Linked DNA regions of Homo sapiens: region 1 is linked to region 2. The links come from fine-mapping of genetic effects on gene expression. A gene starts in region 2. The other region holds a variant in brackets. All regions are shown on one strand. Distances are between the middles of the regions.

Evidence for each region. PIP is the estimated chance that this variant, and not a neighbour inherited with it, causes the effect. A credible set is the group of variants that fine-mapping cannot tell apart.
Region 1: its variant is the best candidate, but not a certain one, in a credible set for the expression of KCNA6-AS1 in T cells (GENCORD, PIP 0.50).

Annotation. Positions count from the first base shown.
Region 1 is chr12:4,792,899-4,807,818 of GRCh38, reverse strand. KCNA6-AS1 (KCNA6 antisense RNA 1) reads left to right here. Exons shown (of 3, transcript NR_199077.1): 3 at 951-3,334. Among named protein-coding and RNA genes, the nearest start is that of KCNA6, 9.0 kb to the left of the region's middle. The variant T/AT (reference allele first, on the strand shown) is at 7,948.
Region 2 is chr12:4,822,569-4,837,707 of GRCh38, reverse strand. KCNA6-AS1 (KCNA6 antisense RNA 1) reads left to right here and starts at 6,937. Exons shown (of 3, transcript NR_199077.1): 1 at 6,937-7,278. It also overlaps a transcript of KCNA6 not described here. RefSeq lists enhancers at 6,958-7,459, 7,889-8,048, 8,109-8,298, 12,796-13,995 and a silencer at 11,999-12,199.

The DNA of each region.
Region 1 (14,920 bases), 30 kb after region 2:
CCTCACCAGTTGAGCCAGGCAACAGCCTCTGCTCCCTTTCTGTGCTTGCACAGCTGATTTCTGGCACCAACGCCCTGTGGGCTTTTTTGATCCCCCAGGATAGAAATCAAAAGAGATCACAGCATACAGTAGCAAAGAGAAAGATTTTATGAAAGCTTATGGACATAAGGGACCAAACACCAAGAAAGGAAGTGGGTTGCTCTCCAAAGTCAAGGTGTGGGTTCCCTTTGTGGAGGTCTGCAGTAAGGGGAAGTCAGGGCATGTAGAGGTGAGGTTTTTCGGGCACATGTACGGTGGCTTAAGATGCTGCTTCATACAACATATGTCTCATTAGCATCTTAAATCTCCACCTGTGGGCATGATTTTTAGTACTAAAATAAGGAAAAGTTCATGATGAGGTGAAAGTTAAGCCTAGCTAGGCACGTAGGGCCTCAGAAAGGTCCTTAGTTCTCTAAAGCAAGGGGTTAATTAATTTGTGGTTAATAGCTTCTTGGGCCTTTGATGCTGACTGGCTGGGAGTTACAGCTTGAGTAAAGGGCTTTTGTTCTTTTTTCTCCAAACCACATCACAACAGGAAAGCAGCCAGCTTGCCCATCTCATGCTTGCCTGTCTCATTTCCACTCCTTTCTCTCACCTTGCATGTTTCCGTGAAGGGAGAGAAAGCAAGTACATGGAGTCATCCAGCGGAGTTTTCTCACTTACAGACTATGTAATTAAGCCATTTAGACTCCACACAAAAGTTGCTCTGTTTAAAAAATCTTTTTGAAAGAAAAGAAAAAAAAGGAAACCAACAGCAAATACACTATAGAAGATACTCTTTACCCCCATCCAGTTATCTGTCACTTTACCCTTATCCAGTTATCTGTCATTATTTTCTGAGTCATAAATTGACTAACCCCTGATTCTTTTTGTTTTTGTTTTCAAATTCATAATGAATGATTCATTTGCAGGTTTGTTTTCATCATTGCCATTTTTATTCACGAGACTGTCAACTAGGTCAGTAATTCTTCAAAACCAATCCTGGCAAAGCATGGGAAGGAACCTTCGTTCTGCAGAAGCGTACACACCCTGATAAGGTGTCAAGAACCTCCGTTTGAGTACCCCTCGGGTTAAGCCTGACTGGGCTGCCGGCCACCCTTCAGGCAGAGCTGATGTTCTGTGATGACCTTCACATCAAGCATGAGGTCGTGCCCCAAGAAGGGTTTCACTGTGCCCAGGGAGGTTCCCCTGAGAAGGACAAGCCATTGGCAAATTCATGAATCAGAGTTCTGTTTTTAGTTCTTTTGTGAAATAGACTCATTTCTTAGCTTAAGAAAAACCCTATGCCTAGATCATTCCCCCCAAGCGTATGTTAAGGATGAGTACAATCACACCTTCAGAAATGCCAGTTCCCAGGTGAAGGAAGACACAGCTCCATCCATAAACACTGCCAAGTGGCTTCCAATGGCAGGGGATTTTTCCCCAGCATTCACCAAGCACCAATTTCATGCCAGCACAGATTTTGTTGTTATTTTTTGTTGTTGTATCCAGATTCAGATGTTTGCCATGGTCATAGCAATCATTCATTTATTTAAAAAGTATATATTGAGCAGCTACTGAGTGCCAGCATGGTGCCAGGTGCTGAGGATTTAGCAGTGATCTATACAAAATATCTGCTTTGATAAGCATACATTTTCATGTAATAAATTACATTATAGACAGAAAATTTTAACAGTAGACAATAAGGAAAATAATTCCATATTGCAGTAAATGCCTTGAGGAGGATAAATGGGATGCCATGTCAGAAATGAACTTGGGGACTCAACTTTGCAAGGGTAGCTGGAAAAGTTCCCTCTGAAGAGGTAGTATTTCAACTGACAATCCAAAGAGGAGAATGGAGCCTGGCACGGTGGCTCATGCCTGTAATCCCAGCACTTTGGGAGGCTGAGGCAGGTGGATCACCTGAGGTTAGGAGTTCAAGACCAGTCTGACCAACATGGCAAAACTCTGTCTCTACTAAAAATGCAAAAATTATCTGGGCATGGTGGAGGGCACGTGTAGTCCCAGCTACTTGGGAGGTTGAGGCAGGAGGATCGCTTTAACCTGGGAGGTGGAGGTTGCAGTGAGCCGAGATTGTACCACTGCACTCCAGCCTGGGTGACAGAGGGAGATTCTGTCTCAAAAATAGATAAGAGAATGGGGCCACAGTGCCAAATGCAGGGAAGAGCATTCCAGACTGACAAGTGCAAAAGCCCTGAGCTAGAAAGGTCATGGGTGTTCAAGGTCAAAAAGAAGGCCGTGCGCTGGGAGGAGAATGGGCAAGGGAAAGGGAGGTGCAAGATAAGATTGAAGAATTAGCAAGGGTACCATCTTATAGGGTGAGGTGTTCAGGTTTTATCTTAAGGGCGGTATGAAGCCAATGATGGTTTTCAAGCAGAGGAGAGACGTGATGTGATTTACTTAGAGGCTGGGAGGGGAATGAATTATGAAGAGGTAGAAGAAGAAATAGAAAGACCAGGAAATTGCAGTCGTCTGGGGAAAAGATGATGGTGACTTGGGCCAGAGAAAGGTAGAGTCAGTAGAGATAGAGTGGAGAGGAGGTGAGGAGAACTGAGGAGGTATGTTTAGATGATAGAATCAGCAGGAATTAGTCATCAATAAAACATGAGAAATAAGCAGCCAATGCCAAGCTCAAGCAACTAGGCAGGTAGGTGTCGCCCTTTACTGAGAAAGGGAAGACAAGGGGTTAAACAAGTTGGGATGCGTCAAGACCTCACCTTTAGATGTTTTACATTGGAGAGGGAAATTATACATGCAAATTAAGACATCAAGGAGGCAGTTATTTATTTAGGTCTGGAATATGAAAAAGAAACTTACGATTTATGAATTTAAGACATCTAGAAATATATACATTCATGGCACCAAGGTCTTCTGCAGAAACAGAATATGGACAACGAGGAGAAATGACCAGGACCAAGTCCTTCACAGCAGTCTTCAATCTACCGGTCAAGGTCAGGAGGAAGGGCAGCCAGCATAGGAGGCTGAGGGGTTGTAGGTGAAGTCAAAGGAAAGCCAAGAGATGGAGAGCTCCTGGAAACCAACAACCAGGACTAGACCCCAGGGGCCCCATCCTCCTGGGCCCACGCTGGCCTTCCAGTGGAACACATGATCTGCAACAGGTCAGGAGTACGTGGGGGGCATCCATGGGAAGAACCACCTAAGAATGGACGTATGTGCCCACAAGATGAGCACAGATAATGTGAAGCATTGTGTGATAACCATTTATATTCTGACCTCTGCCCTAGGTTCTAAAATGTACCTATTCCAGGTATATAAATGACATAAATGATCTGTCTTCCAGGCTTCTTTACATTTTTATTTTGCTGTGTGTGTGTGTGTGTGTGTGTGCACTTGTCATCATTCTGGTAATACGATCCCTGAAGTTTTCCTCTTTCTCTGTGTAACCTCTGAAAATGGTTCTCCTCATGGTCCTGTCACCCACAGGCCCCTGCTCTGAGGACAGGGTGGCGAGTCGTCAGCTCCCTTACCTCTTACTGAGAGAACACAACACTTGTGCACAAGCACGGAACACCCTCCCTAGAATGACCCACCCCACTCTTGAGCTTTCCACTGTGGAATCCAAACCACTCAGAGCCAGTGAGAAGCAGGGGTGATGAGTCTGAGCCCGTGTCCCTCCTCTCACCATCTCACTCTGGGCAAGGCTCTGCCCTCGAGCTTTGGTTCTTCAGCGTGTTCCAAGTGGAAGCTCCTCTGTCCAAACACAGCGTTCTGCCTGGCCCAACTCCCTTCTCTGGTCCCCTCATTCACCCCTTTCCCCAGGGTCTGGGTCATGTTTACTCCTTCTCTTAACCTTCTCCTACTTTTTCTGCTGGAGAGAGAAGACAGCATTGAATCCTGGGGAAGAAGGGGAGAAAAATGGATGACCGGGTAATTCTATACTTTGCAGTCAATTTTTGCTGTTTTCCTTTTGTTCCCCTCCTTCTACACACACACACACACACACACACACACACACCAAAAATTTGGTCATCTGAGAGTTACATTAAAAAGAAGTCAGATATCTTGAACTTCGAGGGTTAATTTCCTGCAGTAGCACCCACTGGTTCCACAAACTCATTGATGTTCCCTGCCAACACTTGATAGCACAACGCTTTGACCTGAAGTTCCCTTCTATTCATTTCGTCTCTGGATGCACTGTGGCCATTTCCCTCCTCCTGGGCTTCCCCTGTGGCCAAGTGGATGGAGTCAGGGGGACAAATGAAAACACATGTGCTATACAAAAGCACTATTTATAATTAGCTGCTTAGTCCAATTTTTAATGAGGACGATGATGTCAGTTACAAAGTAGTGATGGTGATGATGATGTTCCATAATTCAGTAGAGAAAAATCTAACAGCTTTCGCTTGGGTGAAGCTGTATATTAGAAAAGAAATGCATTAGACATCTGTGCCACACCAATCAACAGCCTCAGGAAATTACTATCCATGCCAAGAAATAAATCTATAACGAACTCCTTATCCTTTCGGGGAGGATCCCAAGAGAGCTTGTTAGTATCCTAAGTTTGCAGCCTACATCTTCATCCAATTCTCCTCCTGTGATAGTCATTAATGCTGTTTTCCAAATGTCTCCAGCTCTCTACTTTTCAGGAACATGGAGAATTTTACTGTCTCACTCACTTGTGGCTGTGTGGTACCAGGCAAGTAGTTCTGGACAGTGAGTTATAAGCAGAAGTGGTATGTGTCACTTCTGAACCAAAATATTTAATTCCTCATGGGAAAGCCCCCAGAGCTTTCTTCACGCCAGCCACAATGACCAGCTTTGTTCAAGATGGTGGCTGCTCTGTCAGAGTGAGCTGCATTACAGGGTAAGGTGGCAGGAAGCTTGGCCCCCAGCCGAAGCAATAGTAGCATAAGTGAGAAACAAACCCTTATTGCTCTAATCCTCTGGTATTCAGGGATTGATTTCTTCCCATAGCAGAATCAAGTCTACCCAAACTGAAGTAAGAAGCTGCCAAAAGTAAAAAGTTAAAACCTGTGACATGGCCAGGCATGGTGGCTCACACCTGTAATCCCAGCACTTTGGGAGGCCGTGGTGGGCAGATCACAAGGTCAAGAGATCGAGACTATCCCAGCCAACATGGTGAAACCCAATTTCTAAAAATACAAAAATTAGCTGGGTGTGGTGGTACACACTTGTTGTCCCAGCTACACAGGAGGCTAAGGCAGGAGAATCGCTTGAACCTGGGAGGCGGAGGTTGCAGTGAGCTGAGATTGCACCACGGCACTCCAGCCTGGCAACAGAGTGAGACTCCGTCTCAAAAAAATAAATAAATAAAATTTTAAAAATTAAAAAAATACTTGTGACATTGGTTCTGTGGCCAGATGACAGGTATTGAAGAAATTTTATAGGAGGCCATTGCAGGCAATCCATGTTACAAATGGAAAAATATTCTGAAAACTGTCATCTGTGATAACTTAGAAAGCAGATTATATCCCTAAAATCCTGCATATCTAGGAAGATGGTTGAAAAACAGCTTGTTATATTGTATGGTGGCCACTGCTGGCTGCATCTGACAATGTAGTGCAAGATATTGATGAGTTCAGAAAAGATTTGGCCAGAAAGCAGAGATGAAATGGACAGGAGAGAGTCCAGAAATGTGGGGATTTTCAGTGTAGACAGAGACAGCTGCTTCTCATTCCCCAAAGAAGTAAACAAAACTTAAAAGACCTTTATACAAGAAAGACTGATGAGTGCTTCAGCTCATGCCATGGAACAAATCAAGCACAGGGCAGTCATGTCCATTGTCAGTTCCTCTGAATGGAATAAGTCATTTAGGGCAAAAGTTTAATTGAAGTTATGGCTTCAAAAAATCATTCAAACTGGGCAAACTGGCTCAAGTAAGAGCGAGAGAAAAAACAAGACTAAAGCTGTAACATCCCACAAATAATATATATACCCAAATTATTGCTGTTAGGTTCAAGTTGAGAAGAACCATGGCTCCCCCAGGCAAAATACACTTACCTACTCCCTAAGGAAGATAACCCCAAAGTCCTACCCAGTCCTGGTATCAAGCTGAAATGCTAGGTTCTCTAGCAGTGCGTAGTAGTTTTTATATTAAGGAGTGACATGTGCTAGTCTCTACATCAGTTTTGAATATGGATTTCTGCAATTCAGAGACTTAAAAACCCAAAAGACAAATTATCTGCCTCTATCCCATAGCACGACATACAATGGCTCCTTTAGAATAGGATAACAACTGTAACCATAGGTGTGGTTATTGGCTATCAGTACATAGATCTGCCCGAAACACATAGGAAAAAGCCTAAGAAGATTTTCAGACAGTCATCCTGCCAAAGGAACCATGACCTGAACGAAACCATTCACGACTTTTCAAAATGTAATGTACCGTTGGGCCCCTAAATTATCATGGACAAGAAGCCGGCCAAGAAAGCTGCTCAATATCATCTGCAATTCCCATCTCTGATAGGAGCAAGGAGGGCAACAGAAAGAAGACCCTCCAGAGGGACAATCCATAAGCAGAGAACGGTGGGCTGGGATCTACTCCCAGGCAGCTAAGTGAGGGTCGAATTGTGTTTCACAGGATTTCAGAGTCGTTATGGACCAGTGACTGCTGTGCTTCCCTAGTCTTCCCCCTTTCTGAATGAGAATATTGATTGCAGTTGTCCTACTTCAAATGAATCTTTTCTTGTCTTGTGGGAAAGAAACGATTACTTATCTTTTTGGAGCCTAAGTCTCAGAAAGGAAAGGATCCACATTCACACCTGATGTGGAGACTAGAACATGCCGCTCCCTAAGGTGAAAACTGCCCTGTTACACACCACAAGAGACCCTAGCATTTCAGCTTGATACCAGGACTGGGTAGGACTTTTAGGCTGTCTTCCTTAGGCAGTAAGTAAGTGGATTTTGCCTGGGGGAGACAAACATTTTGTGACCCTAATGGCAGGCAATGGTAGTCATTGCTGCTATTTGACAAACATTTCCAGCTTGTTCACCTCCTGGGTACATGGTAAGATTGTGTCTTTCTTGGTTTTCATGTGATTGAGTGAGAGTCATGTGACTAGTTCTAGCTGATAAGTTGTGCCATGTGTCATATCTGGCCTGCAGCACTTAATTGCCAATGCTCTCTTCCTCTGCCATAATGATCCATAGCACTTGAGAAGGTAGCAACCCCATCAGCCTACAACCCAGATTGAAAGACATAGACCAGAACCCTAGGAATGCCAGGGATGGCTATGTAGTCTGAGCAGTAAATAGTCCTTTGCTATAATCCACTAAGCTTTGTGGGCTGTTTGTTACTGCAGCATAACCCTGTCTCTCCTGACCAATATGCCTACTTGCATTCCTGCTTGGAAGATAAATACAATACAGAGATCATTAATATTCTATTTTCTATGCCTAGAAGAAGAGAATTGAACATGGATCATGAAATTAATTTCAAAAGCCTAACTTTGGCCAACTTTTTCATTCTTACTATTGCTTACTTCTCCTCCTACCACAGCTTTCTACAGAGATCTTCACTTTGTTTATATTAAACTGGTCTGAATTTTTGCTCTTCCTTGTCCATTTTCTGACCTAACTCTACCACTGAAATGATAGCAACCTGTTGTCTAACTCTGGTGTCCTATCTGCATCTCCAATGGGGTCATGGACAGTAGCTAAGTCTTTATGATAAAATGTTGTAACTTTCTTCTGTTTACTAACTTTTCAATAAATATTGACTAAAGATAGTAATAGCTAATGATAAGCATTTTTTGAATGCATACTGCATTCCAAGCACTTTGCTAAGAGGTATGAGGTAGAAGCTTTTCCTAGCCTCCTTTTAAAAATGAGAAAACAGAAGGACAGGAAGTTTAATTTACCAGCTCACAGAGCTAGTGGGTACCTGAGCAGGCTTCAAATGCAGCCATTCTACAAAAAAAAAAAAAA[T/AT]TGTTTTAAGTTATCCAGGCATGGTGGCACATGCCTGTAGTCCCACCCTGGGAAACTGAGGCAGGAGGATGACTTGAACCGAGGAGTTGGAGGCTGCAGTGGGGCTATGATCATGCCACTATACCCTAGCCTGGGTGACACGGTGAGACCCTTCAAAAAATGCGCTCAGTCTTGAGTCCAGAGCCCATGTGGGGAGCTCTCTTTCTTCATGTTCCCAAACTGTGTTCTACACAATTCTAGTTCTCACCATGTTGATAGATATTTACACAGACAAGGCACTCCACCCTGTAGCCTTGTGGTTAGGATTCCAAACTGCCGTGATCTGGGTTCCACTCCCGATCAAAGAACCAGCCACCTAGAGATGTAAATTCTTTAACTCAGAAGAAAAAGAAATTAGTTTGATAAAAAATTGATTTGATATTTATAAACACCCACCCCAATGAAGGGAGTTTAGGAATCTTACACTTTGTCTCAGAGAGCCTCACAATAGACATTAGAATAGTAAAGCCTCTGATACATCCCTTAACATTATGTAACCCAATGTTTCCCAGATGTATTTAACCACAAAACCCTATTCTCACCAAGCCTCACATTCGGAGGCACTTGTGTATTATAGAACATAAGAACATAAGATCATAGAAATCAAGCACTAAGGAGGGATGGTGAACCTCATCTCAAACAACTGCATGATTTTGCTGATGCCAGAATCAGAGTATAAAGTGAGCAAATGACTTTTCCATAGTCTTAATGGCTACAATGACTGAAATCTAGATCTCTTAATTCCCTGTTCAGCAGGATTACTCTACCCCAAAAGGTCATAAATAGCAAATTCTCCCAGGACAAAGCGGCAGGTCAGAGAGAATCACAAGTTTCTCATAGACTCCAAGGATCCTGAGGACAAAGACCCTGTTATTATACCTTCTCCCCCTGGCCTAGCACAATGTCCTTCACAAAGCAGGTGCTCGATAAATGTAAGTTAATGAGTAACAATGAGGGACAGAAGGAGGATCAAGCAACCAAGAAGAAGAGACAAAGGACCAGGTGGCTTATGTGCAGAGAGCACTTGTTACTAAGCAGGTGATATAAGGAATGACACAGGTCCAAAAGGATCTCTCTTCAGCTGCAACACCATCCCCTCTCAAGGCACTGATGGAGTAGAAGCAAATTCTATGCAGCTGCGCATGTGTGCATGAGAGAGAGAGAGGGGAGAGAAAGAGAGAGAAAGAGAGGGAGAAAGAGGGAGAGACAGAATGTGTGTGTGTGTATGTGTGTAGAAGGGAGGAGTGGGTTGATGGAAGGAGAGCTGGACAAGACACACAAAGCCACGTTCAATTGCAGGAATTGCCCCAAATAGCAGGCACAAAGGGAAGGAATACCAAATGCCAGTCCATGGAAGAACAAAAAAGCCATGACTTTCAGGGCATGTTCTGTAAAAATGAGGAAAATATTTTCCTGCCTCTTCTACCACTGGAAGGAAGCATAAGTTCTTTGAATATGATCTCCAAGAGATTGATCTTAAGCCTTTGGCACAGTTAACGAAATTGTAGTTTTAAAATTCATATCTATTGCTTATTTTGGTAGATGTGGAATCCATGGGGTAAAAAGGTATTTTTAGTTCTGAAAACAAACTAAAGGACTTTATGGTTAAGAATGGTCAAGACTAGGATATGGTTCGTGATGGAGACCTTAAGGCAAAGGAAGTTAAATTGCTTTGCATCAAAAAAAATGATTTTCAGTTTTCTCCCAGAGTCAGACATTTGGAAAAGCCTATGGTTGAAAAAGAGAAGAAATTAGAGAAGACTAAATATCTGTTGAATAGGACAGGTCCCCGAAAGAAGATGGGAAGGCAAGGTCTCAAAGACATTACTTGTGAGGCACTATTCCTGGTGGGATGCAGAGACTGGAACAGGGATGTCTGATGTCCACTTTTAGGCTGTTCTCTATTCGGGGCTCAAGTTCCCCTTCCAGTCTGGGAGAAGGAAAGGAAATTGCTTCAGGAAAGGAGGAAAGGGGAGGTTAGGGAAGATCCTAACAGAAAAGGAAGACCCCGCTAGGTCCACTGGCTCACCTTTCCCCCTTTGATGCAATTAGATGGGAGCAGTGTGGTGAGCTGGACAGGCTGGTTGCCTGTTTCCACCCGAAGCATTCATGTCACCCCTGTGAGCACATTCCAGGCAGGTAGCCGCTGCTCCTTGCCTAGTGAGTCTATGTTGTATGTATTTGGGCCTCAAAGATTCTGTTTCCCTTCCTGAGGAGCAAAGGGTGTGATTTTAATGTTCTGGTTCTCCTGCTTTACAGATGTAATGAAATAGCTGGGGCTAAATAATGCAAAACTCCTGGTCCACTGATGGTAACGTCTCTCTTTTTTTAACTACAGTCTCTAATTCACTCAAAGGAACAAATTATGTTTTATGGCCTTTTATAAAATATTCATCCCCTCCTCCTCCAGCACTCTCAGTGGTTCAGGAAGCCTGGAAATGGCCCTGTGTAAGGAGGATCTCATTTCCTCCCAGACACAAATTACAGAGGCTGCCAGACTCCTGATAACAGAGAGGGGTGATGCTGCTGCGATGGGCTGAGAGCACGGACTCCACATAGACCTGCTGGGACGTTTGGGGATTGGGGCCAGCAGCGATGTGAGGCAAGTGAGCAAGTGAAGGGGACCTGTCTTGCCCTTCTTTGGAGCATGTCCATTGCATCCATTTCTTTTTGTAGGTGAAAGCCCGGCCCAAGCCCTTCACAGTCCACCTTCTCCCACGCATCCTCCTCTCTGATATTTGGGTGTTGTTTCCAGCCAAACCCAGGTTTAGGAAACAGTGCAGTAGCCAGAGTCCAGGGAAGGGGAGGATCAGTTTGTGGAGGGTGGGGTGGGAGAGGTTTCAGGGAGAAGAGGGTGAGGTGATGGCTGTTGAAGAGAAGGGAGATTCTCAAATGTACTCCCACTTGCTGTTCATTTACATGTCCCATCCAAATGACCAAGGGACACAGGAATGTAACAACATGAATAATGATCTTCCTGTTTGGGTGTTTTACAGTTTACAAGGAATGTCCACATCTGGAGCCTTGAACACTAACGCTGGAGTCAAAAGCCTGACTTGCGAGCCTGGCCAGGCTGCTGATTCACCTGTGTCACCTCGTTTTCCTGGGCCTCAGTTTCCCCTCTTGCACAGAGAGGGGCTTAGACCAGAGGACTGAGGTCCAATGTAAGTTTTAATCCTGGTTCTATAAGCCTCAGAGCCTGGATGTGTGCTGCCAATTCTAGGCTTATACCATTTCTGAGGGTCTCTGGGCATCTGCCTACTGATTGGTAGAAAGAACCACATTTTACGAAGAACAACAGTGGGAGCAACTCCCTGATGACAGCAGTTTTCCCCTAATTCCTGTCTGGCCTGATACTGCAACAGCAGACATCACAACCAGGCTCTTCCTCCGGGCAGGAGTGGGCTTTATGCACCCCTCCCCGCTGAGCCGGGCCTGATTCTCAGAGGGGACGCGGGGGAGGAAAAGTGCTACCAGCTGCGTTCTACACAGCACAGAGGCATAGAGAGGGAGGACGCAAACACACTCATCATTTCGGTGCTATTTCCCCTCATTTCCCTCTATTCTAAAGTATTCCTGTACCATTCTATATTGGGAAGTGCCATTTCTGAGGATAAGATGAAGGATGGCAGAAGCTGAAGGATCTTATACTAACAGCCAAAATATGGAGAGGTAAAAATTACAGTGGAGGACATTTCCAACTGATTTGTCATCGAAAAATCTCAAAGTACTCTGTATCTACCATTTATTCCCAGAACCCATTAATCAGAAAAGCCTGTATCAATTCATGCAGGCCTTTTATATCATCCTAGTATGCAGGTAAGAATCTGTGAGCCCTGAGCACCTCAGGCTTTATTAACTGCAAAATACACGGAATTCTCCACCCATTTCAGAGATGACTTGAGCAATATTTATGCATGTGGAGAGAATAAAAAGAAGGCTCCTTGAGAGGACTGCCTCTCCTACCCTCACTCTTTCTTGTCATAATTGCCTTCTTTCTTTTGACCATACATACGGCAGACTTGAGAACAATCTGTTCATTTATTTGATAAATACGTATTAAGCATCTTCTGTGCACCAGGTACAGTGTTAGGCCCTGGGTATAGAGTGGGGAACAAAAGAGTCATGGCCTCCGCCCTCAAGGACTGTCTATCTAGTCATACGTACACACACACACACATACATACATTCATATCACTCCTTCCACGTTGTGATGGTTAATACCAAGTGTCAACTTGATTGGACTGAAAGATGGAAAGTATTGATCCTGGGTGTGTCTGTAAGGATGTTGCCAAGGGACATTAACATTTGAGTCAGTAGACTAGGAAAGGCAGACCCACCCTCAATCTGGGCGGGCACCATCCAATCAGCTGCCAGCGCAGCTAGAATATAAAGCAGGCAGAAAAAAAATGTGAAAAGACTAGAGTGGCTTAGCCTCCCAGCCTACATCTTTCTTCCATACTGGATGCTTCCTGCCCTCGAATATTGGACTCCAAGTTCTTTAGCTTTGGGACTCGGACTGGCTTCCTTGTTCCTCAGCTTGCAGACAGCCTATTGTGGAAACTTGTGATCATGTAAGTTAATACTACTTAATAAACTCTCATATCTATCTATATATCCTATATATATATAAAATAGGATATATATATATAAAATAGGATATATATCCTATTATTTCTGTCCCTCTAGAGAACTCTAAGTGATATGCAGGTACATATATATATGGGGAGAGAGAGAGAGAGAGACAGTCCCCAAACAGTCCCCAGCTGTTTCAGTGTTCAGCCATTCAATCCATCCCAGCTGAGGATTCAGACATCATAAAGCGATACAGAACGTTCCCACTATGACTTAATTCCTGAATCACAGATTTGTGAATATAATAATAATAAATTGTTGTTTTAAGCCACTATGTGTTGGGTATGTTGTTATGCGGCAATAGATAACTGGTCCCCTCAGAGAAGTCAAGAACTTGCAGAAAGTCACTCAAATAATAAGTTACGGAGTGGAGATTCAAACCCAGCTGAGCAGTTATAATGAGCAGCCTCCCAGGGAGTGAATACAATGTGAGAGCTCAGAGCAGCCCAATGCTTATCCTACCCATCTGCTTTCCTGAATGCAGAACTAACCTTCTGTGGCTTCCTTTTTCTTTAAACACACACACACACACACAAATGCACACACACATACATGCGCACACACATACATGTGCAAGCATATACACACACATATTCATGCAGATGTACATGGGCATTGTATTACACTATCTCCTCACCCGATGGGCATTCTTACAGGAAAAGGATGTGCATGCAGCCTCTCCCTTGGGGGAGAAGGCATGTGCTTGTCAACTCAAAGGGTCAGCAGACCTTCAGGAGGCCAGGTCTGGCGCATGTAGGCCATGCTATAGCCGTGCTCTGAAGCCCAGAGAATCCAACATAAGGTTCCAATTCGAATTCCATTTCCATGAAAAAACTTCCAGCCTAATCCTCTGGTCCTTCCCAAAGCCAAGAAGGGGCCTTGCTCTAGGGAAGTGCCCCACATCCCCACAAGACAGGTTCTTACTCCCTGGTCAGAAACAGGGAGACCAGGAATGGATAAGTGAGTGCAAGTGGAGGGCTGACCCAATGCTGTCCAGAAATTCTGCAGTTGGCAGTCCCAAATTTGTCAGCTCAGGGATAGGCAGAGGAAGGAGCAAAGCCACATTTTGGGCACAGGAAAGGGAAGTTGCCATTTTTAACCCCTTCTGTGTGTCCAGATTCCATTTCCCACAGCTGCTTAGGGGAAGGTCAAACCACGTGAGCATCCTGGATTCCCTTCACGCCATGGATAGACTGGGAGGGAGCAAAGGGGACTTGAGCCCCAGATTGTAAAAGGAAACATAAAGAGGAGTGTTGAGTAATTTATAAGGTCAGGGACAATGTCATATTCATCACAACAGCCCCATTACCTAACTTGGGTGCCAGGTAGATAATAGATAATCTATGTTTGTTGAATTAATGGAAAAAATGATCCCCATACAACCACCTTGATGTCAAGGTCCTGAAATATTTCAGGAAGTGGCCGGATTGCTCCCAGAATCATGACCATCATCTTCTGAGGAAGAGTGGACACTAAAAGAGTGGGGCTCTCTTGCCCATTGGTAGAGCTCAAGCTGCTGGAAGATTATGTGGAAAGAGCATAGGCTATTGCCCCAGATGTCACCTATCAGCGCGTTACCCTGAGCATGCTCCTTAACCTCTCTGAGTCTCATTTTTAAATGAAGTTATTTTTTTTCCAAATTAACAGGAAAATATTTGAAATATTTCTCACTAAGCATGTACTTCAAAAGTGTTTTGTTCCTTTCCCTTCATCTTGGTTTGCCACCTCTTCAGGTATAAAAATCTTTGACTCTACATTATCTCCGTTCCTTCTCTTCCTTTCCACCCTCTTGCCCTTGCAGTCTGGCATACCTGACAGCTCAGGCTTGCAGATATACTTTGGGACCTGAGCCTCCACTGGAGTGCATCTGAGGTACTGACCAGAAATATCTCAAAGGGGTTTTAAGGAAAACTATCAAAGACTTTGAGATACAGCAGCTTGGGTTTAAATCATATCTCCTTCGCTATAGACAAGTTACTTAACTAATATGGGCTTCCAATTTCTCATCCATTAAAAAAGGGAGTTACAGTGGCATCCTCACCAGCATTATTACAGGGTTGCCACCTTAGGATCTGCCAGGCTGTGCCCTGCACAGGGCAGCTGGTGAGCATGAGGCTGCAATGGGGCCCACACTGCATACCCTACACCGTTGTGTCCCAGTTCAAGGCTCTTTGCTCCCGGAGGAAGGGGTGCTTTGTTCTGATTTGCATGAAGGTATTCTATAGGCAAAAGGTGGCTCTGGAATAGTATGAGAATAAAGTGGGATAAAACAAGAACATCACTTACCCTCATGCATAAT
Region 2 (15,139 bases):
TTTTTATTTCCATATGCGTCTGTGAGTAGACAAAAAACACAAACTTCTTCCTCTGCTCTCACACCACAACAATCAGCACAGATTTCTGTGATAAAATCTTTGGGGATTCCTCCCCACCAACATGCAAGCAATTGCAGCAGATACCAGCCAGTGTCCTCCAATTCCATTCTGATGCTGTCTACCTGGAGACAGCATCAGATCCCACAGGTTGAGGGCTCAGCCCCACAAGACTGCCCCCAACTTCCAGTGCCAGTCACAAGCCCCAGGTTGTTTTGCCTGTGCTTCTGAGGGACTGGTTTTATACACTGGAGTTGCCATGACCCCCTCCGTGGGTTTGCTTAATTTGCTAGAGTGGCTCACAGAACTCAGGAAACTTACTTACATTTATGGGTTTATTACAAAGGATAGTGATGAAGAGATGTACAGGGCAAGGTATGGAGAAGAGACACGGAGCTTCTATGCCCTATTGGGGTGTGCCACCTTCTAGGAACCTCAATGTGTTCAGCTATCCAGAAGCTCTTTGAAACCAGTCCTTTTTGGAGTTTTTATGGAGGCTTCATTACATAGGCATGATTGATTTAACCACTGGCCATTGATGATTGCCTTGACCTTCAGCCCCTCACCCCTTGTGGGGGGCAGGATTGAAAGTTCCAGCCCTATAATCCTGCCTTGGTCTTTTCAGTGACCAGCCACTGTCCTGAAGCTATCCAGGGGCTGCCAGCCATCATTAAACTCATTGACATACAAAAAGAAATCACTCTGGAGATCCCTATGCCAGGAAACAGGATGAAGACCAAATATATATTCCGCAATATCACTAGCAATTATAAGCAATGTCAATGATAAAATATTTCTCCTAGGCGAGCCACCCGGGCATGTCTCCCTGCAACTGGCTATATCAGACACTGCTCCCACTGGGTGCCCTCAATGCTAGTCTGTCGCACTCCCATCTTGCTTCAGCCGGAGGCATCATTCCTAAATGTGACCTGAGCATGTCACTTTGATCTAAAACTCCTGCTTGCTCCCATGGCCTTCAGAATGAATCCCACTTCTAAGCAGCTTCATGACTCTTCGCAATCTTGAGTCCAACTTATTTTTCTAGCCTTTCCTGCACCCTTTCTCTCACTCCATATATCCCAAGCTCCTAGCTCCTTGAACACAGCATCCTATTCTTGACCCCCATACCTTTGTTCAAGCCATTTCTTTTATTAAGAATTTTATTTTCAACAATGAAAATTCCAAGTCATCTTCCAAGGCCCTGCTGAAGTGTTAATTCCCCTGGGAAACCCTCCCTGACCCCCTCCAGTGCCAAAGAAGAATTTGTTGTTCTTCCTCACTTACCCAGACCACCTGTTACCTGCCTTCACAGTATCACTTACTGCAGAGTCCACCTGATCTATTCACTGCAGGAAGAGTCCAATCAACAAGAGTGAGGTCTGGTATAAAGACAGTGACTTTTGGCCAGGCGTGGTGGCTTGCGCCTGCAATCCTAGCACTTTGGGAGGCCAAGGCAGGTGGATCACCCGAGGTCAGAGTTCAAGACCAACCTGGCCAACATGGTGAAAGCCCGTCTCTACTAAAAATACAAAAAAAAAAAAAAAATAGCCAGGCATGATGGCAGGCACCTGTAATCCCAGCTACTCAGGAGGCTTAGGCAGGAGAATCACTTGAACCCAGGAGGTGGAGGTTGCAGTGAGCCAAGGTTGTGCCATTGCATTCCAGCCTGGGCAACAAGAGCGAAACTCCGTCAAAAAAAAAAAAAAAAAAAAAAAACAGCGACTTTTTATTCCATAGCTACCTTAGGGGAAGAAGTACAGGCTTCCTGCCTTAAGGGCACCACTTTGCTTTTGGAACAGAAAGAAGGTTCTTTTTGAAGGGGGCCTAGCATGAATGACATGCAGGAGAGGAAACCAGCAGGTCGGGGTACACATATTGGCTTCGGTGCCTTATCTATCAGACAGCTGAGTTGATGTCTTTGTGGGCAGGACTAGGTTGTTCAAGGTAGCCAAGACTCTCCAGGTGGGAGAGAGTTTCCTAACAAGCAACTTTGGGTTGGAGGTTGACTGTTGTCCCATGAGGAAGTCTCCTGGTGGGAGAGTTCCACTCTGGAACTTCTAAGCGCATAGTTAGATGAAATAGCCCTATAGGGAGTGTCTGCTGAAGGGAAGGTAAAGGTTAGAATTACATTTATAAAGGGCTAAGTAGGAAGTGGGAACAGGGAGAAATGGAGGAAAAAAAAGGAAAGAAAAAAATAATTTAAAAAAAATCATTCTTGGCCAGGTGTGGTGGCTCAAGCCCGTAATCCCAGCACTTTGGGAGGCTGAGGCGGGCGGATCACAAGGTCAGGAGATCGAGACCATCCTGGCTAACACGGTGAAACCCCGTCTCTACTAAAAATACAAAAAATTAGCCAGGCGCAGTGGCGGGTGCCTGTAGTCCCAGCTACTCGGGAGGCTGAGGCAGGAGAATGGTGTGAACCCGGGAGGCAGAGCTTGCAGTGAGCAGAGATCGCGCCACTGCACTCCAGCCTGGGCGACAGAGCAAGACTCTGTCTCAAAAAAAAAAAAAAAAAATCATTCTCTGTTTCTTAGAAAAATGGGAGTACTCAGTTTGCATTTATTAGCTTCCCTCCTATATAGACTCCAAGAATGCTAAATTCCCAGTCCCAACAGTTGAACCCAATACATTGGTTAGGCTACATTTTACTAGTTAACAGAGTTGTTGTGCCTTAGGTCAGTCCTCAAAACCAGCTTGCTTTTCAGTCCCTGGTCCCTTGGGTCAGACCGGGCACCTTTCCTTTCTGTCCGTATGATTCTCACTCCATGAAATCAGCTGGGTAAGAGGGCTTAGAACCACTTTTGGGTCTTGTTCTCTCACCCTCCTGAAAGTCAGCTGTAAAAGAGCTTGTCACAGATTTTGGCTCCAAGGTCGATGAGAGTAGGAGACCCCACTTTGGCCTGTAGTCCCAGTTGCGGGTTTCAACTCAGTCTTTTACTGGAGAGCCCTGAATTGCAGGTAGCTGGGTCCTGCTTTAGATACTAATAAAGTGGTACCTTGCTGCCTGCATTGGTCTTTACTGTCAGAACCCACTGGTGATAAGGCATGAACAGCAGGGCAGGATCTGAGCCCTCACATAAGCCCTGAAAGTCTGCCCTAAATCCCCAAGCCCCCGCTTCTACCATTTACCACCATTGTACTTCAGTCAGCTGTTTACTCGTATCTGCCATCTAGACATGACCTTCTTAGAAGATTAAAGTTTTGCTCACCTTTAATTCTCTAGTGCCTCACACATTATAGGCTTAATATCAATGTCTATTTAAAAAAATAAGTGGGTACAAGACACGACGTAAGTTTCTTCTTCTGCACCCTACCGGTTCCCAACCCAGCTGTCACCCCTCACTACTGCCTTTGTGCTCTCAGAACCCCAATTTTGTTCAGGTTTCTGGAAGCCAACACTTCAAAGAAGACAGGCTGGCTGGGCATGGTGGCTCACACCTGTAATCCCAGCACTTTGGGAGGCCAAAGTGGGAGGACTGCTTGAGCCCAGGAGTTTCAGACCAACCTGGGAAACATAGCAAGACCCTGTCTCTACAAAAAATAAAAATAAAAATTTATAGCCAGACATGGTGGGTGTGCCTGTAGTCCCAGCTATTCAGGAGGCCGAGGTGAGAGGAGCCCTTGGGCCTGAGACATCAAGGCTACAGAGAGTCATGATCACGCCACTGCACTCCAGCCTGGGTGACAGAGGAAGACCCTGTCTAAAAAAAAAAAAAAAATTTAATTTAAAAAAGAAGGAGACGAAGAAGGAGAAGGAGAAGAAGAAGAAGACAAGTCCCTCCCAGCCTAGGGATGACTCTAAGTTAATCATGGTAATCCTAGCCGTTGGTCTATTCTGGTTAGGACAGCCCCGCCCTAACCACAGCCTAAGGAAAGGCTCATAGGAGACAGCTGGGGAAGTTTTCCTCATCCTTAGGCTCAACCCTTCCTGCCTTCACACACTGTTGTGTGAGGACATGATGCTTGGAACTGCTGCTGCCATCTGTGAGCATGAGGCAAAAAGCCAAGCAAGTCCTAAGAACAGACTTCTTCAAGCCCTAACATCATTGGCTATGGCAGACCCACTACAAAAAATGCTTCCAATGCTCCACCTGCCCTTGGCAATGTGACCTTGAAGCTCCTCCCACGAAGAGGCAGAGTCTATTTCCTCATTACTGAGTCTTAGTCAACAGCACTGCAGCAGAAGTGACTGCACCAACTCCAAATCTCGTCTCAAGAGGGATACTCCAGGCTGCCCTGCTAGAGACATGGGAGCAACATGGGCAGGATACTGAGGCTCCCTGGCCAACAGCCACACAACCCCCAGCAGCACCACCTGATCAACCTAGAGATGACCACAGATGCATGAGGGATCACAGATGCATGAGGAAGCACAGGTGAGACCAGAAGAGCTGCCCAGCTGAGCCCAGCCAAAATTGCTGACCTGCTTGAATTGGGAGCTATAAAGTAATGGTGGTGTTTCAAACTTTTCGGTTTTTAATTGGTTAGCTATGTCACAATAGCTAACTGATGCATTACGAATCCTGAAGCTGTCCTTCCTCAAGACTCCATTTCATATGAGATAAAAAATATTCTCTTTTTTTAATGCCACTGTTACATGCAGCCTATAGTTCCCTGATATTGTGCTCTGAGGAATAAAAACGATGAGACAGGGCCCTGCCTTCAAGAAAATGGCAGCCCAACTACACTTAAGACGTATTTTCAACTAGGTTGTTGACCCCCCTGAGGTGAGGGTTTGGTGGCACATGTATCTCTAGAAAGGACTCTTACAGTCTAAAAATGTACAGCAACACAAGGTAACCTCTGCTGAGTGCAAAAGGAGTGGTCCAGTCCACATAAAGACTTCATGAAGAGCTGGATATGAGCTAGGTGGTCTTTGAAGGAGATTTAGGATTTCGAGTCATGAGGAGAGAGGGAGGGTTGAGAGAGGCAGGACCCTCTCTGGGTCTAGAAAGATGGATATTCCATAGGGATTTGTTCTGGAGACAGGTGAGTGACTAGGAATTGAATTCTGATGTGGTGATTTAGGGCATGAAGCACATAACAAGGACAAAACAGTGTCTCAATGCAGGCCTGCAAATGTTCATTCTATGAGGTGAAGAATGAACAGAGGGGCCAGAGGTACAAGCCAATGTCCTCTGCAGCCACCCTCAAAAGAGTATCAAAAAGCGTATTGTCTCAGGAGTATCAGGCCACCGCCCCATAACCTCAGATGTGACCAGGCCTGAAGGATCTCCTTCTACCTGTGCGTCCCTGCACCTCTCACTTTATCTTACCCAGTGGGCGCACTGCCGCTGGGGTGGGGTCACAGAGGAGGCCTTGAATCAATGCTGGGTTGTAGGTTGAACAAACTTCACAAGACTAGAAAATAAGTAATAGAGAGGTACTTGTTTTTTTCACATTGCCAGAGTCTCACATTTCCCTCTCTGTCTGAGTTTTCCCAAGCCCACAAGGGATGGTCGTGGGCTGACTGATGACACCCAGGCTCTCGGGGTCTGAAGAAAAGCAAAAGAAAGGCCCCTGTTCTCTGGTCCCAACCACAAACATGAGGGCACTAAATAATTCCACAACTACACCATCTTCAGAATCAGAGCACTAGGAAGGAGAGAGCTATTACTCATTTTGACCAGGAAGCCTTGTTTTATTTAGCAATGAGTATTTGCTAAGCGTATCTTCTACTCAATAGAACACCCTCACCATGTTTCTGTGAGACCAGAGTGATCCCCATTTTATACTGGAGGAACACAAGGTGTATGAGAAATGTGCCCAAGATCTCAATACTAGTGACTCGGAGAGCCAGGGTTTGAGCCCAGATCAGTCTGATACTGAGACCTGTGCTCTCTCTGTATATAGTATGCAAGAACTATCATTTCTTCAAAGTCTGAGCTGAATGGAAGCTCTCATAAGAGATTATTTTCAGAAGCTCCGTGTCTTAGCCAAGGGAGTAAGTGAATTAACACACTGGACTCCAAAATCCAGCTCTGTTATAAAGTAGTCATAGTAGCCACGTGGCCTTGGGCCAATCAAGTCATCACTCAGGACCCCAATTCTTTTTGGCATTTACAAAAGGAGAAAGCGGAGCTGGAGGATGGATCCGACCCCTTCCAGCTCCCATGGCTGGGAGGTTTTCCATCTCTCCCATAGAGAGGCTAGCCCAGACTGAACCAGAACGTTTTTTTCCTGACTAACGGTTTCTAGGAAAGAGGCTCATGCTGGCTGGCTCTCAGGCTCAACCCTGGTCCAATCCACTGTCAGCAGGACGGGGTCAAGCAGGTACTAACTTGGCTGGCTGCTTGTGGGTGATAACGAGTTATTGTGAAGGACTCTTGGGCCCTCTGATAGCTGCCTGACAATGCCCAACCAGAACAGTAAAGATCCACCAAGCCAGCCGCTCCGGGCCACATGCAACTTCAAGGACCACTTTGTGCATCTGCACCAAGGCTCCCTCTGTTTTGAGAAAGGAGAGCTCGTCGGTCCCATATTCCTCCGCAGTCCTTGCAAATCCTCTCACCTGGCAGGAAAGCCACTTAGGGTTGTTGTATAAGAGGAGGAGGCACAGCGGAGACCAGCTTTGTTGGCAGAGAGCTTACCTTTCCTGAAAGTCAGCGCTGAAAGATCAAAAGTCACTGAGGACCCTGCTGACTCCCCCACACCAACTCACAAAACCAACAACCCGTGGTGGGCAGGGCCTGAGAGAGGAAAGTGAACGATATCCTGCAAAAGTCTGCTAGGGGGTGGCTTCGTCTCAGTTGCAAGGCTGCTGAATAGGTAGGTAGGTAAAGGCCATGGGGAGAATCAGCATTTGGAACTCTTCCCTGGGTGCAGCGCCCCTGCCCGCATTGCCTGCAAGGCAAACCCCGCCTTCTCCCGCAGCCTCCCACTCCGCCCAAGCAGCCCAGGGACAGAGGCTGCAGGATTCTGACACAGGAAGTCTACAGTCACTGGGAGCCTCTCCAAGATACAGCCTGTGTGAAGGAAAAGGTCTGGACAAGGAGAGGAACAGTAAAGAGAAACAAAAGTCCTCGGTTTGAATGAGGAGAGATTTTGAGCCCGCAGCGGGTTGCGGGGTGGAGGATGGCGGAAGGGGCAGATGCCGTTACCGGGTTCTGTTTCTCTTTCGCTGGCCACCTTGTTAAGCTCCCATTGGCCAGGTGTCCGGAGTGGGACTCACCACTGCAGGGGGCTCCAGCCCCACACAGCCGCCTCCCAGGAAGGACTCAGGTGGGCTTTCAGGTTATCCGCGGTGGGATGCAGGGGTGAAGGAAGCTTTGGTGGTGGATGTGAGAATTTGGGATGGGGGTGTGGAACTTTACTGGCTCCTGCCATGCAGCGTGCACAGTGCTTTCTGCAGGATGGCATCGAAGGGGCTGGAGCTGGGGGGCAGCACGTCTCTGTCCTCAGACCACGGTGGAGGATGTGGACTGTCCAGGCTCCAAGCTGTCCATCCCTCAGTGCCATGACCTAACCGTTAAGTGGGATGGAGCATGGGAGGGGAACGCAACTGCACCTTTCAGAGAGAGGCCCTCTGAGCAGGAAGAGTGGCTGCAGTAGAAAAGATGTGGCTGAGAAGGGGAAGAAAGAGCCTCGCGAGCATCAGCACTAGGAGAGGCAATTGATTTCATCCTGTGAGTCTCAGGGGAGTGGAGGCTGCCCCTTCCAAAAGAACTGGCAGGACTGGCCATGAGCCAAGTAGGGAACAGCTGCTGCTGACTGAGGGAGAAGCTGTGCAGCCTCGGGCAATTCAGTCAACCTCTCTCGGCCAAGGACAATATAATAATGCCTGCTTTACTGACCTTAGTGAATTGTTACGATGTTCAATGGTGAAAGAGAGTTGTAAAATGTGAAGTGCAATTAAATGTATAGGTGCGATATTATCAGCAGAACTTCTTGGGCTGGAGGTACCCAACTATGGCTGCACACAAGAACCTCTAGAGACTTTTTTTTTTTTAAATCCTGAACTTGGAAACCACCCTAGATCAGTTATTCAAATTAGGGCAGGCAGTGAGCAGAAGGACAGGAAGTGGTACTTTTTTCAAAAGAATCTGGTGATGCTGATATCCTATGAAGGTTGAGACCTGCTACCTAAGACTTCCCCAAAATCCATGAAGGTGATCACTCAGAGCACATGTTTTTTAAAAAGGCATATTCTCAGGCTTCTCCCAGATCTTCTGAATCAAAATTTCAAGGGGTCCTGGCAACCTCTATATTTAGCGAGCAATAAGAGCAATGTGGACACGTTATGCCAGTGAAAAGTTTGTCGATTAGCTCCTTTTCTACTGGATAATCATATCCAGCAATGCTTCTGGACAGCACAGGCAAATCAGCTCAAGGAGGGGAAGCACCCTCCTCAGACGGTAAGTACAGACATGCTTTGGGGGGATGGGGTTACAGTAGACAGCCAAATCCCATCCTATTCCTGCTCCACCGGGGTGAAACTCCAATTATAAAATGACACATTTCCCAGCCAACGTGCCTGGGAACCTTAAGATAAAAAGGAAACGATGATGAGTTATCTATAACTAACAGCATCAATTATGAGTGCTTTATTGTGTCAATAGATTGTTCAGGCTTTCTTGCTTCACACACTGCGGACTCTGTTCCATTCATAAAATTATACAAACACTTGCATATCCATGCACATGCACTCACAAACACAGAGACCCCAAGCTCGTCAAACACACAAATGGGAGGACGAAGAGGATGACAGGAGCCGGTGAACTCTTATCAGGCAACTGCATTACTCCGTTCTAGCATTATTTGCAGGATTCCATGCTACATTAGCGATGTTCCCAGGTAACAGGACCCCAGGGATTCTTCATTTTAGCTCTTTCATCCCACAGGGGCAACACTAGTTTAGCAGATAAGAGCACGACTCTGGAGCCAGACTGCCCAGGCTGAAATCCTACCACCCCACTTACTGGCTGTGTGTGACTCTGGGCAAGCTACTTCTGTGAAATGGAGATAATAACGGGGCAACTGGGACGATTAAATGCGCTGGTACACATAAGCCCTTAGAGACATGCCTGGCAAACAAGATGCTATGTGAGTGTCCGCTGCTATCAGTGATTGTTGTTTCTGTTGTTGTTTTACTATAGGTGAGAAAGGTGATACCTAGAAAATTAATTGCTCACTTTGTTTACATCTCTTGACTCTTTTAGGAGTATAGCCAAGGAAGGAGTCATAAATGTGAACAAATATCTACACTACAAGTGTTCGTTGTAGCACCGTTCATTAGAAGCAACCTGAACGTCCAATAGGAAGTGGGTTACCAAAAGAATGCTGCATCTCCATGACGGCTATGTAGTAATTGCATGAGAAAACTAGAGACATAATATGAAGCTTTTCAGATGAAATGCTGAATGATCTCTATAGATATACAGATACAGACATAGACAAAGTTAGTCTGGGGGAGAAATACAACCAAGTTCCAACACTGAGTGTCTCTATAGAGATACAGATACAGACATAGACAAAGTTAGTCTGGGGGAGAAATACAACCGAGTTCCAACACTGAGTGTCTCTATAGAGATACAGATACAGACATAGACAAAGTTAGTCTGGGGGAGAAATACAACCGAGTTCCAACACTGAGTGTCTCTGGTGGGGGGGTTATGGGATTTTTATTTTCTCCCTTATACTTTTCTAAATTGGGGTAATTTTCGATGATGAGCAGATATTCCTTTTAGAGTCTGAAAATAAAGCGTTCAATTGAAGCAACTTACTCAAGGTCAAACAGCACATTAGGAGCCCACACAGGCTTCCTATCCCTGTCCAGGGACTGTGAGGCTTCGTGAGGCTGCACTAAGAGTAGGAAGGAAAGCTGAGAGGGATGAGAATGATGAACACACACCGAAAAGCAGCAGGACCTTGGTGGAGCTGTGCAGGGCTAAGCCCCAGCTCGGAAGCTTCCCAGGGCAGAGCTGTGAGGGCAGAGCTAGACACTTTTCCATCCCAGAGCCACTTTGCGGCACAGTGAGGTGACCTAGGCACTACAATCGAATGCCTGCCCTTGGGGCTGCTCACTGCTGTCTCCCAGAAATGGAAGAAGCCAGCTTCTACTTTGTCTAAGGATACCAGAGAGTAACACCAACCTTTCTTTCCTTTGTCCTTTCTACAGACTTCTTCCTCTAGTGTGGAATCTGAGACCCAGGGAATACTGGTTCGCATCCCTGCTGGGCTGCACTCCCCTGCTTCTCCTTAATATAGAAATGTCTTTTCTTGCCCAGCATTTTCCCCATCATAATGCCAAGGTGCTTGAAACGGCCAAAACCAAGGAATGTTTATTTTGCAACACCGAAATAAAGAAGGATCTGGAATCACTTAATAACTAGGATAGGCTTCATCTAAGAAAAATAGAAAGGAAGGAGGGAAGGAGGAGGGAAGGGCGAGAGAAAGGAAGGAAGGAGGGAAGGAAGGAAGGAGGAAGGAAGGAAGGAAGGAAGGAGGGAAGGAAGGAAGGAAGGAGGGAAGGAAGGAAAGAAGGAGGGAAGGAAAGAACGAGGGAGAGAGGGAGGGAGGAAAAGAAGGAAAGAAGGAGGAAGGAGGGAAGAGAGAGGGGACGATGGAGGGGAGGAGGGAGGAAAAGACGTAGGGAAGGAAGCAAAGAGAGGGAGGAGGGAGGAGAGGAGGAAAGGAAGGAGGGAGGAAGGAATAGAGGCAGAAAGGAAGAAGAAGGAAGACGTTTATCATTGCTTGACAGTAGATAAAAACTATTGTCTCTCTTTCAAAACTTTGCTACAACCTACTCAGTATATTTTTAAATGTAAGTTCTGATCTTTGTAAAATAATAGACTGGAGTATATGAGCTCTGAAATTCAGTGATTCTACATAAAGTTGAAAACCTAGTAACTCCAACTCTCTTTTTCAAAGATCACTCCAGTGGCAAAAGCCAAGCAATAAAGTCTGTCAAGTTTTCAGGCAGCCAGCTGCACATCTGATTAATACACTTGGGTATCCGCAGAATTTTCAAGCAGAAACCCAGTCGTTGAATCCAATGACCTCACTTTACAGTGAAGACTCTGGTGGGAGAACAATACTAATGGCTACCATTTGCTGAGGGCCAGGCAGGTGACATGTGTAGGGTCACACAGCAGGTTAGTGACAGACCCAGAATTGGATGCAATCCTCACCCACCCCACAGTCCACTTCTTCTGACTTTTAGTGGCTTTAATACCAGAAACTTTTCCTCATGGCTCAAGATGTACAGAAAAGGAATCGGTACAAAGGCAACAACAGGACAAGAGCAATTCCCTCCTTTCTGCTTTTGCCTCTGAGCACAGAAGGGACACCATGGAAGAAGGAATTTCAGCCTGGACCAGTTGGTGAGGAGCAGACAGCAAACCTCAGGCCTTGCTAGATGAGCAGAGGAGGGTCAGAGGTAAGAGCCCTCAGCAGCACCAAAACAAAACAAAACAAAACAAACAAACAAAAAACACCTAGAAGAAAACAGCTTTCCAGGAGACTGAAATCCAAGCACCAGAGGAACCAGGTCCAACTGTGGTGTGTCAGCACCAAAAATGCCTTGGGAGAAAGGACAAATGTCACACTTGAAAACAGTGTTTAGGAAGATGGAAAAGAATACTGAGAAAACCTGGTTACATACAACTCACTGCTGGTATTTGCATCTTTCTCAGATTGTGAGTAAGATTTCATAAATAGGATAGTGAGTAAAGGTTATCATCAATGTTTTCATCAAAAGGTTTTAGTTAGAAAAGTGATCGTAAAAAAATCCATGTTACAATTTTTGATTTGGTTAACAACGTGCATAGGAATTGGCTGTTACAGTGTAAGGCAAAAGCCATGCAGACGACCTCATTTGCCTGGCAGAGTGCATCAGAGCTGTGGACATTTCCTAGCAAGGTAGCTCTAAACCTAACAAATAAGACCAACTCTTACTGTTATTTTCTCAAAGACTTCTATTTAAGAAGACTTATAAGGACTATAGGGAAGAGGATGTGTTTTATCACATTACTCAGTGCCTTATCAAAACCACTTCCGTTTCTGAACAACTCAAGAGGGGTGTGAAGAACTTTAAGAAGGTTGATAAGAAGCCACAGAATGGTCCAACTGAAAAAACCTTTCATGGCTGAGGGTCCATGCACTCAAATCCATTGCAACAAGCTTCAGATCTCTTCGAGTTTTCCAAAATGTATTTGTTGGATGAGTTTTGGGGGTATGTGAGCAGACATTACTATAAAAGGGGGATGGAGATTCTGTGGTAAAAATTTTTAAAAATGTAAGAAGTTGAAAAACACTGGTTTAAAGAAGTGAAATAGTTTTACTGCTGCAGGACTTCTCAGAGCCTTTAATTTCATGTTCAGATGCATTGTGCATCTCCAAGAGGCAGCATTTCTGAAACATAGTGCCTGGGGATTCTTTCTCCATGGAAAGTTGCGTAGGACTGATGTTCTGCAGATCACATTTGAGGAACTCTGGCATGAGTTATTCTAGGTAACATGGTCACTTGAGTATCCATTTCAGCAGAAGACAAAACAGGAGGAAGGAAGTTTAAAGTGCAGCAGGAGATGTGTAACTGAGAAATGAGGAAAACATCCTGACAAAGGGTGCTCAAACACAAGTAGCTTGAAGGAGTCTATATTATGGATTCTCTTTCTCTGGGCATTTTTCAGAATAAGCCTGGAATAATCTAGACATTTTTCTAATACACAGCAAGGCAATTAATTCCATGACTTTTAGAATTCTCTTCCTGCTCAATTATTTCATGTCATCTGTCCTTATTCTCTATTGATATATTAAGTGAGTTCAGCTGACTGGCTTGCAAATTAAAGACATCCCTGAAATGTTGAAGGTAAAGCCAATACATCCTCTGTAAGTTGAGTCTGTTTTCCACAGATTGGTATTATAATTGCAAAGAAAAGTGTTGACCTTACGCATCGGGGAGGAAGCATCCTACCTACACCCTTGTGCATTTCTTCCCGTTCATTCTCCCGCTTACGGCAGCCCACAGGTCAGCCAAGTGAATAGCTGAGTCATGAGATGCTTCCACACTCAGTCATTCAACCTCTCTGTGGATTCCCAAGTTTTCTGGAAGTTCTCGCTGATCTCGGGGATTCTCAATGGGTAAGTCACTTCATTGCTCATGTTCTTTCTTTAGGAATTTAACAAAATCCCTGGATATTCTCTGCTGCTGGCTTTTTTAGCAAGGAAACAGTTTCACTCTAAGAAGGTAGTAAGCCCCTTTACATGAGTCGCCTCTGTTATGACCAAGTATTTGATGATTTAATACCTGAATCATGGTCACTATTTGATCAGGAAGTCCAAATCTACAAAACAAGAGAAACTATTACATAGATGGACATATTTCCCAAAAGACTGATTTATGAGAGCTTTGAGTGGTTTTAACTGTATCTAACGTTTGGACAAGAGACCTTGCTTATGCCTCACTACTCTGTCAAAGTGGGCAAATAAGAAACAGACCATGAAATAATAACTTTTGCTGAATGCTCGCCACATACCAGGCCTGTTAGCATTACCTGCTCTAATTCCACCCATTCACTGGCCACCATGAGGGATGTCTATTAATGGCCCAGTTTTACAGAGGAGAAAACCAAGGCTCAGTGAGGTTCTGAACTCTCCCCGGGTCACACAGGCAGACACCAGTGGGGAACAGCACTGGGAGCTGACTTCCTCAGGGTGGACAGATATCACCTTCTGCCTACATTGTTCACAGATAGACCAAGAGGCTCAGAACCATGTTCTCATGTCTCCTGTCCTGCCTCACCTGACACAGCTACAGGTGTGGGAAAGGCAGTGCTGCCCACCTGCAAATGCATCACTTACAGTCTGCATGCAGTAAGAAAAAGAGAGATTATGATAGATTTTCTTGGAATTCCCCATTTTATTTTATTATTTATTTATTTATTTGAGATGGAGTCTCGCTCTGTCGCCCAGGCAGGAGTGCAGTGGCGCAGTCTCAGCTCACTGCAACCTCCACCTCCCTGGTGCAAGCAATTCACATGCCTCTACCTCCAGGGTAGCCGAGATTACAGAAATCTGCCACCACACCTGGCTAATTTTTGTATTTTTAGTAGAGATGGAGTTTCACCATATTGGCCAGGCTCATCTCGAACTCCTGACCTCAAGTGATTCGCCCGCCTCGGCCTCTCAAAGTGCTGGGATTACAGGCATGAGCCACTGCACCCAGCCGGAATTCCCGTTTTTGAACATACATTTTGAAAAATATCTCCTAGTTCCTAAAATGAAAAAAAAAAAAAGCTTTTTTTCCTTTCAAGTCTGATCAGCAATCCTCATCATTTCCATCATTTCCAATGCCATAGCATTCCTCTTCCTTCCGCTGGAAGAAGGAATTATGATTGCATGAAGTACACTATAAGCTAGTTTAAATTCATTTTTCTACTGACTACATGCTCTCTTTTAACTATATTGTGTAGTTTTTTAAATGTGAAAGGGCTCACTTCTATTAAAAAGCACCTCTGAGAGGAAAATAATTATATTATACATACACAAAACAACAACAACTTTTTGGAAACTCATCTGTTGGAACAAGTGAGGCCTACAAGCATTCAAATGTAAGGCTCATGATGGATTTTATTTAATCCCAACCTGACTGAACATTTCCTGCCCTCCTGGAAAGGGTACATATAAAGCTTAAAAAAAGGAAAACGTTTCTTATCTCCTTCCCAAGGAAATAATGTTGGGCATGGTTCCAAATCTACGGCCATTTAGCTTTCGGCCAATAAGCTTCAAAGACAGAAGATTCCACCTGAGAGCTGAAACCAACTGGGAATAACCCAGGAGAGGCAAGATCGAATCCGGGCACGGCCATGGGCCTCATGACATCGCAGAAGCAACCAGACAGATGCACAGCCCGTGGCTGGGTGGCCAGTCATTATCAGGAAAGCCACACAATGCCACTCATGAATCCCCACTCTGACGCCCACTCAGTCCTAGCCAGCGGGAGTGGAGTAGTGCTCCACAGTCTGACATCACAGAAACAGGAGGCGGTTCTCTAATTGGATACATCTCTGAACGCAGAAGTTTGCCTGATTTCTAATTTTTACCATTTTGGTTGGGAGTTCTGAATTACATCACACATTCCCCT